Regions from separate parts of the Homo sapiens genome. Here region 1 is linked to region 2. The links come from fine-mapping of genetic effects on gene expression. A gene starts in region 2. The other region holds a variant in brackets. All regions are shown on one strand. Distances are from middle to middle.

Region 1 (5,000 bases), 33 kb before region 2:
CCTCCCACATAGCTGGGACTACAGGCGTGTGCCATGATGCCCAGCTAATTTTTTGAATTTTTGTAGGGACAGGGTCTTGCCATGTTGCCCAGGCTGGTCTCAAACTCCTGACCTCAAGCAATCCACCCACCTTGGCCTCCCAAAGTGCTGGGATTACAGACATGAGCCACCATGCCCAGCTATTATTTTAACTTAGTTTACCAGGAAACATTAAGCATTTTTGGGAGAAAATTTGGCAAATGCAGATAGTCAAGAATTGCACTGCCAAGAATTCACCCAACCAAGCTGCACCCAAAAGCACGCTGAGATATACAGGGGAAGCTCTTTAGCAATGTGGATAGTAGGGATGAAAGGTCATGGAGAGACCAGGCACGGTGGCTCATGCCTGTAATGCCAGCACTTTGGGAGGCTGAGGGGGTGGATCACTTGAGGTCAGTAGTTCGAGACCAGCCTGGCCAACGTGGCAAAACCCCGTCTCTACTAAAAGTACAAAAATTAGCCGGGTGTGGTGGCATGCGCCTGTAGTCCCAGCTACTTGGGAGGCTGAGGGTGCAGTGAGCAGAGACGGCACCACTGCATTACAGCCTGGCAACAGAGCAACTCTGTCTCAAAAAAAAAAAAAAACAGGCTGGGCGCCTGTTACAAAATTAGCCAGGAGGGTGAGGCAGGAGAATCATCTGAGCCTGGCAGGTGGAGGTTGCCGTGAGCCGAGATCTGCCACTGCACTCAAGCCTGGGCGACAGAGCGAGACTCCGTCTCAAAAACAAACGATGACAAAAACAACAAACAAAAACCTCAGGTCAGACCATGCTATTTTTTCTGCTCAAAACCCTCTACTATCTCCTATTTCACTCACAGTAAAATCCAAAGGTTGTACAACACCCTGCATGCTCTGGCCTCCTCTTAGAACCCCTAGGCTCTCTCCCTTGCTTACTGTGCTATTTTTAGAATATGCCAGACAGCTTTCTACCCCTGGCCATTTGCCCTTGCAGTTCTCTGCACATAGCTCATCCCTTCGCTTCATTCAGGGTTCTGCCTGACTCTTACCTCCTCAGAAAGGATCCCCGACCATTCTATTTCACATTTTTTCTTTTTTTACTTTTTTTTTTTTTTAATCTCATTCTGTCACCCAGGCTGGAGTGCGGTGGTGTAATCACGGCTCATTACAGCCTTGACCTCCTGGGCTTAATGGATCCTCCCACCTCAGGCTCCTAAGTAGCTGGGACTACAGGCATGCTCCACAATGCTTGACTAATTTTTAATTTTTTTTTCTAGAGATAGAGTCTCACTATCTTGCCAGCTCAAACTCCCGCACTCAAGCAATACTCCCACCTTGGCCTCTCAAAATGCTGGGATTACAGGCATGAGCTGCCAATCCCAGCCTCATTCTAATTTAAATAGCACTGCCCTTTACTCATACTCGTATAATGCTGTGGGATATTCTGCATTGCATTTATAACTACCCAACTTTATGTTATATATTTATTATCAATTTTTCCACTAGAACACCAGCTTGATAAGAACAAAGACTAGGCTCATTTTGCCTACTGCTGTGTCCCAAGCTCTGAGAGAAATGCCTGGCAAAGTTTATTGGTTGGCACTCAATAAAAGCACGTTGAATGCAAGAATCCTTACAATGGATTGCTATCCAGGCTTAAAAAAAATTATGTAAGGCCAAGTGCTGTCATCCCAGCACTTTGGGAGGCTGAGGTGGGAGGATACCTGAGCCCAGGGGTTCAAGACCAGTCTGGGCAATACAGGGAGACCCCATCTCTACAAAATAAAAAAATTAGCAAGGTATAGTGGCACAGGCCTGTGGTCCCAGCTACTCAGGAGGCTGAGGTGGGAGGATGGCTTGAGCCCAGGAGGTTGAGGCTACAGTGAACCATAATTGCATCACTGCACTCCAGCCTATGTAACAGGGTGAGACCTCATCTCAAAAAAAAAAAAAAAAAAAATAGATGTAGCTCAGTAGCTGTTGATGGACCAATCTGCATAATATAATGTCAAGAAAAAAAGGAAAGGCACCTATAATCCCAGCACTTTGGGAAGCTGAGGTGAGAGGATTGCTTGAGGCTAGGAATTTGAGACTAGCCTGGGCATCATAGCAAAACCCTGCCTCTACAAAAATAAAAATAAAAAATTACTTGGGTGTGGAGGTGCACACCTGTAATCCAGCTGCTCAGGAGGCTAAAATAGGAGGATCGCTTGAGCCCAGAAGTTTGAGGCTGCAGTGAGCCATGATGGCACCACTTCACTCCAGCCT[G/A]GGTGACAGAGCAAGACTCTATCTCTAAAAATAAATAAATAAAAATAAGTGTTACTTTGGCCGGGGGTGGTGGCTCACGCCCATAATCCCAGCACTTTGGGAGGCTGAGGCGGGTGGATCACTTGAGGTCAGGAGTTTGAGACCAGCCTGGTCAACGTGGTGAAACCCCGTCTCCACTAAAAATACAAAAATTAGCTGGGCGTGGTGGCACACGCCTGTAGTCCCAGCTACTTGGGAGGCTGAGGTAGGAGAATCGCTTAAACCTGGGAGGCAGAGGTTGCAGTGAGCCGAGATCACACCACTGCACTCCAGCCTGGACGACGGAGTGAGACTCTGTCTAAAAAAAAAAAATGTTACTTAAAAAAAAAAAAAAAAGGAAACAGTTAAAGGAACAAGGCCACAACAGTCAGCAACTGACAGAGCCAAGTGGCTTATAGGCCAGAGGGTCCCCACACCAAGTTCTTTCTACACCAGGTCATTCTCAGACGCTATCTTGGTGCTGCGGTATCAGGCAATGCCTTGACAGTTGCTGACAATGAAGTCAACAAAGCTGCAGGGATGGAAGAGCAAGCTCTCCATCCTGAAGTTACCTCTGGAGGGCAGAGGCCAGACTTGAAACATGGATTGGCATCATGCTAGGCCTCAAGCTCTTAACTTCTTTTTCAGCTTTTTCCTGTGGTGATTCCTTTGTCCTAAGCAAATGCCAGCCACAAGACAGACCTGCAACATTTGACCTTATGTCAGACAGAATGAAAATTGTGTGGGGCCTCTTGGAGGGTGGGGTGGGGGGAGGGATAGCATTAGGAAAAATAGTTATTCCATGCTGGGCTTAATACTTAGGTGATGGGCTGGGCGTGGTGGCTCGTGCCTGTAATCCCAGCACTTTCGGAGGCCGAGGCGGGTGGATCACAAGGTCAAGAGATCGAGACTGAGGGCTGGGCACGATGGCTCATGCCTGTAATCCCAGCACTTTGGGAGTCCGAGGTGGGCAGATCATGAGGTCAGGAGTTCGAGACCAGCCTGACCAACATGATGAAACCCCATCTCTACTAAAAATACAAAAATTAGCCGGGCGTGGTGGCAGGCGCCTGTAATCCCAGCTACTCAGGAGGCTGAGACAGGAGAATTGCTTGCACCCGGGAGGCAGAGGTTGCAGTGAGCCGAGATCGTGCCATTGCACTCCAGCCTGGGCCACAGAGCAAGACTCCGTCTCAAAAAAAAAAAAAAAAAAAAAAAAAGAGAGAGATCGAGACCATCCTGGACAATGTAGTGAAACTCCGTATCTACTAAAAAGTATAAAAATTAGCTGGGCATGGTGGCATGCATCTGTAGTCCCAGCTACTTAGGAGGCTGAGGCAGGAGAATTGCTTGAACCCAGGAGGCAGAGGTTGAAGTGAGCCAAGATCGCGCCACTGCACTCTAGCCTGGTGACAGAGCAAGATTCCGTCTCAAATTAAAAAAAAAAAAACCTAGGTGATGGGTTGACAGGTGCAGCAAACCACCATGGCATACTATGTAACAAATCTGCACACCCTGCACATGTACCCCAGACCTTTAAAAAAAAAAAAAAGAAAATTGTGTAAACTCCAACAGCTGCAGTCAGCAGAACATGACACGTGGGGAAATTTAAGAACATCCTTCTTCAAACACAGATAACTTTGAGATGGTCCCTTTTTTTTTTTTGACACGGAGACTTTTTTTTTTTTTTTTTTCGAGACAGAGTCTCACTCTGTCCCCCAGACTGGAATGCAGTGGTGCAATCTTGGCTCACTGCAACCTCTGCCTCCCAGGTTCAAGTGATTCTCCTGCCTCACCCTCCCAAGCAGCTGGGACTATAGGCACGCACCACCATGCCCGGCTAATTTTTTGTATTTTTAGTAGAGACCAGGATGGTCTCGATCTCCTGACCTCGTGATCCGCCTGCCTTGGCTTCCCAAAGTGCTGGGATTACAGGCGTGAGCCACTGTGCCCGTCCTCTTTCTTTTTTAATTTCTTTTTTTTTTTTTTTTGAGACAGAGTTTCACTTTTGTTGCCCAGGCTGGAGCACAATGGTGCAATCTCAGCTCACTGCAACCTCCGCCTCCCAGGTGCAAGAGATTCTCCTGTCTCAGCCTCCCAAGTAGCTGGGATTACAGGCATGTGCCACCATGCCTGGCTATTTTTTTTTGTATTTAGTAGAGATGGGCTTTCACCACGTTAGTCAGGCTGGTTGTGAACTCCTGACCTCAGGTGATCCACCCGCCTCGGCTTCCTAAAGTGCTGGGACTACAGGCGTGCGCCAATGCGCCTGGCAACAGGCACCAATTTTCACCAGAACTGCTGCCTTAGCCAAACCCTCAAAGCTGTCAAACAATATGAAGGACAAAACAAAGGGAAGTGAGGGTGACGACTTCAGTTTTGCCAAGACGGTTGGAAAAACAGCAAACATTGTTCTTATTCAGTGTACAAATGGGAGCCCAAGGAATGGACACAGGCTTGGTGAAAACTCCTGGAAGCAGATGGGAGAGGATGGAGAGCTGCTTTCATCCAGTCAGTACTGACCCTGAAGGCTGACCAGCTGAAGCCACCCTGTGAGGCTCACAGAGAACAGAGGTCCGTAGTCACACACGCACATTTACTGAGCACTGCCATGTGCCTGCACTGTGCTAGATGCTGGGAAACATCAATGAACTGAACAGACAACAATCTCTGCCCTTATGAGGCTTCCATTCTACTGGCAGGAGAAAGACCACAG
Region 2 (5,486 bases):
GCCTCCCAAGTAGCTGGGACTACTGTGGTAGCTGTGCCACCGTACCCAACTAGAAAGTTGTTTTTTTTTTTTTGAGATGAAGTCTCACTCTATTGCCCAGGCTGGAATGCAGTGGTGCAATCGCAGCTTACTGCAACCTCCACCTCTCAGGTTCAGGCGATTCTCCTGCCTTAGCCTCCAGAGTAGCCGGGACTACAAGTGCCCGCCACTACACCCAGCTAATTTTTGTATTTTTAGTAGAGACAGGGTTTCATCATGTTGGCCAGGATGGTCTCGATCTCCTGACCTTGTGATCCGCCCACCTTGGCCTCCCAAAGTCCTAGGGTAGGTGTGAGCCACCGTGCCCGGCCTATTTTTTATCTTTTATACTGTATTTGTACTGTACCTTTTCTATTTAGATTTGTCTAAACACACAAATATTTACCATTATAGTCCAGTTGCCTATGGTATTCAGTACAGTCACATGCTGTATAGGTTTGTAGCCTAGGAGCAATGCGCTATACCATATATCCTAGGGTGCAGTAGGTTTGTGTAAATAAACTCTAGGATGCTTGCATAAGATAAACTCAGGGCTGGGCACAGTGGCTCACGCCTGTAATCCCAACACTCTGGGAGGCTGAGGTGGGCAGATCACCTGAGGTCAGGTGTTCAAGACCAGCCTGGCCAACATGGTCAAACCCCATCTCTACTAAAAATACAAAAATTAGCTGGGCATGGTGGCGTGTGCCTGTAGTCCCAGTTACTCGGGAGACTGAGACAGAGAACTGGTTGAACCTGGGAGGCGGAGGTTGCAGTGACCCGAGATCGCGCCACTGCACTCCAGCCTGGGTGACAGAATGAGACTACGTCTCAAAAAAAAAAAATTAATTTCCATTTCTATTTAATTTTTAAATGTGGCTACTACAAAATGCAAAGTTAGAAATGTGGCTTGCAAATTTTTCTATTGCATAGCTCAAGCTTAGAACCTTCCTGTCGTTACAAGTTCTAAGTTTGGTTTTTATCTCGCAAGCAGCACTACTGTGTGGGAAGTTGTGGGGGGTATGGAGATGAAAGAAGAGGGGCGCTACCTCCTGGGAAGTGACAACCTAGCGGGGGAAATAGATGTATCTTCCCAGTGGGGGTGAGAAGTGTCATTCTCACCTATTTCAGCAGCCTTGGTGGTATGAAAAGGCATCCCAACCAGCACAGAAGCAGGATGCCTCCAAGACTGCCTTGGTTGGCACCTGCAGCCTGAAGGGGGAGAAAAAGGCTTTGCTAGCTCCCCTACCATCGAGGATGAAGACCCCCACTGTACACAGTGTATAAGGTTTCTTTCCATGTGAATCCCAGTGACTCTCCTTAACTGGGTGGAGGTGGAAGGTGTCATCAGCCTTGTCCCAGATCGAGCCCCTCAGGCCCACAGAGCCCCAGTGGGGCCTGGCTATTACTGACACTCATGTCACACTGAGATGTAAGACGGCAGCCCAGGCCAAGCTTCCCCGGGCCCCCTCAGATTCTCGGGCCCTCCCACTCCCCTCAGGCTTCCTCGGCCTCCCTGCCAAACATCTATCTCCCTTTGGACCCCACTGCTCCCCAAAACTCCCCACGCCCTTAGTCTGTTCCTTCAGTTCCCCAAACTCCTTCAGCCTCATCTAGACTCCCCTCCGTCCCTCTTCTAGGACCCCAAAAGCTCTCCTCGGCCCCAGGACCCCGCAGAGGTCCCGTAGTCCCATCTCTGAGACCCCACAAAGCCTTTCGGACCCCTCAGGTGGCCCTTAGGCCTCCGGAGATCCCTTGGCTCCCCACACTCTCCTCAGACCCCAGCTCACCTTAGCCTCGCCCCGAACCCACCTCACACACCCCAAACGCCCACAAGACGCCGCTCTGTCTAGTCTCTCCCAACTCCCGCGCACCCCCGGACGTCCCCCCCACCCCAGGCCCGGATCCTGGAATCACCTGGGCCCCGCGCCCCACGCCCCGCCGCCGGGCCCACCTGCGCGCCCAGCTGGTTCAGCTGCTGCATGTCGCCGCCCACGGCCTCCGGCACCGGGTCCTCAGTGCAGTGCAGGCGGCCCATGGCGCGCGCCCCAGCCCCGCAGGTTCCACCGCCGCCGCCGCCCTGCTCAGCTTCCTCCTCCGCTGCCGCTGCCACCGCTGCCGGCCTCTCCGCGCATCCACAACCGCACTTTCGCCACGGCCGTCGCAGCGCACTCCTCCCCCGGCCGCCCTGGGCTGTCCGGAGCCGGGGAGCCCTCGCAGGGCCGCGGACACGCGCGGCCGCCGGGCTCCGGGGAGGGGCAGGGGCGGCGCCGGCACCGGCAGACGCGAGGTTTCCTGCCAGCTCTCCCGCTGAGTGACCTTTGGGTACGGCGCTTGGCCTCTCTGAACCTCAGTTTCACCATCTGAGAAAATGATGGCTGGGGTAGCTCCTTAAATGAGTTAAGCCTCCAGAAATGTTTAACGCAGAGACCGGCACACAAGAGGTCTTCAATCAATGGCTAGCTGCTATTATCATCATCACTGTTACTATGCACTCCAGAGATATTTATGGCAGCCTACTCGATGCCAGACACTGGGGACAGGGAAGGGAACAAAGCAGGCCAGAGTGTCTCTCGGAGAGCTGACATCAGAGTAGAGACTAGGTCTCAACCTTGGAAGGGCATCAGCATCACCCCAGCATCACCTGGTATTGCCGGGCCCCGCCCCCAGAGGATCTGATTCGAAAGGCCAGGGTGGAGCCTGAGAATTTGCATTTCCAATAAGCACCCAGGGACTACACTTTGAGACCTTCTGGAGTGGAAGAAACTGACTTACCAAAGTTTCCTCAAAATAGTGCGAGGGCTTTGACTGTGCGGGGCAGGGAGGGTGGTGGTGAGGTGGGTGAGGGGAGGTTACTGAGACCGTGATCATCACTGCAGCCCCTCAAACACTCTAACCCCCATGCCCTCTCTTCCCAGGGGCTCCTCACAGTTCCCAGGTGAATATTACCCTAATCCCCACTGGAAACATGAGAAAATAGAGACATGCTACCCAGAATCTAGGAACTGAACGCCAAGCCTAAGGGCTTCACCTAGCCCCTAAGTCCAGCCTTGAGGGTAAAGAGGTAATGCCGAGAAACCTGGAGCAGGGAAATGTGGGGGGTTTGGCTGGCCTTCCTCACCAGCCCTCCTCCTCTCCTCTACCCTTTCCTGAAAATCCCTTCTGTAAAAGTATAAACAAAATGTCTTCTACCCGGCCCGGCGCGGTGGCTCACTCCTGTAATCCCAGCACTTTGGGAGGCTGAGGCGGGCGGATCACTTGAGGTCAGGAGTTTGAGACCAGCCTCAACATGGAGAAACTCCGTCTCTACTAAAAATACAAAATTAGCCGGGCGTAGTGGTGCATGTCTGTAATCTCAGCTACTCGGGAGGCTGAGGCAGGAGAATTCCCTGAACCCGGGAGGCATAGGTTGCGGTAAGCCGAGATCGCGCCATTGCACTCCAGCCTGGGCAACAAGAGCGAAACTCCGTCTCAAAGAAAAAACAAAAAAGTCTTCTACCCAAAGGCCAAGCCCATCCCCTTCAGTCATTATATCATTCATACATTCATTCAACAAATATTGAGTGGCACATGCCTGTGGTCCCAGCTACTCGGAGGCTGAGGCAAGAGGATCACTTGAGATCTTGAGATCGAGACTGCAGTGAACCCAGATGGCGCCACTGCACTCCAGCCTGGGCGACAGAGCAAGACCACATCTCCATAAAAAAAAAAGAAGGTCTGCTGTGAGGCAGATACCATGACATGATAGGGGGTGGGGATTCCACAGTGACACAACCAGATGAACCAGATGCAGTGCCTGGCCTCTGAGAAGTCAGAATTGACCCAGGGGGCAGACGCAAGTGTGTGTGAAAGTATTAAGGGATGCCAAAAAGTAGGAGGTGCTTTGAGAATGTGTACAGGACACAGTCCGAGTTTGGAGTACCTGGAAGAGAATAAACCTTCGGGTGACAAACAGACAGGAACTCAGAGGCCCTACTCACCGTGCAAGAATTTTTTTTTTTTTTTTTTTTGAGACAGATTCTGGCTCTGTCACCCAGGCTGGAGTGCAGTGGCACAATCTCGGCTCACTGCAATTTCTGCTTCCCGGGTTCTAGTGATTCTCCAGCCTCAGCCTCCCGAATAGCTGGGAATGCAGGTGGCCACCACCAAACCCAGCTAACTTTTGTCTTTTTTTTTTTTTTTTGGAAACGGAGTTTTGCTCTTTTTGTCCAGGCTGGAGTGCAATGGCGAGATCTCGGCTCACTGCAACCTCCGCCTCCCGGGTTCAAGTGATTCTCCTGTCTCAGCCTCCCAAGTAGCTGGGATTACAGGCATGTGCCACCACCCCGGCTAATTTTGTACTTTTAGTAGAGACGGGTTTCTCCATGTTGGTCAGGCTGGTCTTGAACTCCCCACCTCAGGTGATCCGCCTGCCTCGGCCTCCCAAAGTGCTGGGTTTACAGGCGCGAGCCACCGCACCTGGCCCAACTTTTGTCTTCTTACTAGAGATGGGTTTTCACCGCATTGGCCAGGCTGGTCTCATACTCCTGACCTCAAGTGATCCACCTGCGTCAGCCTCCCAAAGTGCTGGCATTACAGGCGTGAGCCACTGCACCTGGCCCGGAATTTTTATTTTTAAATATTTTTAACCTTGTTAAAAAAGAAGATCTGGGCTGGGCGCAGTGACGCATGCCTGTAATCCTAGCACTCTGGGAGGCTGAGGCCGGTGGATCACCTGAGGTCCGGAGTTCAAGACCAGCCTAGCCAACATAGTGAAACCCTGGTTCTACTAAAAATACAAAAATTAGCCGGGCATGGTGGTTCATGCCTGTAATCCCGGCTACTCTAGAGGCTGAGGCAGGAAAATCGCTTGAACCCAGTAGGCAGAGATTGCAGTGAGCCGAAATCCCACCACTGCACTCCAGCCTGAGCGACAGAGCAAGACTCTGTTCAAAAATAAATAAATAAATAGTTGGGGGAAAAAAAAAAGAAGATCCCCATCAGGGCATTACATTTCTTCATATCTTTAAGTGTTAAATCAACTGTTTAGGTATAAAAAATAAAATGAACCTGTTTTAAGTTTTGTTTTGTTTTTAACATCCTGGAGAAAACCACTGGATTTCTTTTCATTTCTGCTTCCACAGTGACTGGTGCTGAGTCACTTGATAAATACTGTATTTGTGGAACGGAATTAGCTCATGTGACAGAAAATACAGAAAAGGAAAGGAATTCACTTGAAACTGACACCCAATACTATAGGAATATGGTGACTCTTCTTTTCCAGTCTTTTTTTTTTTTTTTGAGACGGAGTCTCTCTCTGTCGCCCAGGCTGGAGTGCAGTGGTGCTATCTCGGCTCACTGCAAGCTCCGCCTCCCGGGTTCACGCCATTCTCCGGCCTCAGCCTCCCGAGTAGCTGGGACTACAGGTGCCCGCTATCACGCTTGGCTAATTTTTTGTATTTTTAGTAGAGACGGGGTTTCACCGTGTT

Which allele goes with the higher level. Alleles are on the strand shown, and positions count from the first base shown. SD is a standard deviation of normalised expression in the study named.
As copies of A replace G in region 1, the expression in thyroid of the gene that starts at base 2,132 in region 2 goes up (small effect, 0.24 SD a copy in GTEx).

What was found. PIP is the estimated chance that this variant, and not a neighbour inherited with it, causes the effect. A credible set is the group of variants that fine-mapping cannot tell apart.
Region 1: its variant is the best candidate, but not a certain one, in a credible set for the expression of COMMD7 in thyroid (GTEx, PIP 0.70).

Annotation. Positions count from the first base shown.
Region 1 is chr20:32,708,791-32,713,790 of GRCh38, forward strand. All of the region lies in intron 3 of COMMD7 (COMM domain containing 7), which reads right to left. Among named protein-coding and RNA genes, the nearest start is that of COMMD7, 32 kb to the right of the region's middle. RefSeq lists an enhancer at 72-578 and a silencer at 2,597-2,891. The variant G/A (reference allele first, on the strand shown) is at 2,267.
Region 2 is chr20:32,741,336-32,746,821 of GRCh38, forward strand. It overlaps COMMD7 (COMM domain containing 7), which reads right to left and starts at 2,132. Exons shown (of 9, transcript NM_053041.3): 1 at 1,973-2,132. The coding sequence starts at 2,056. RefSeq lists enhancers at 1-298, 968-1,795, 2,683-3,627 and silencers at 749-923, 1,908-1,977, 2,158-2,387.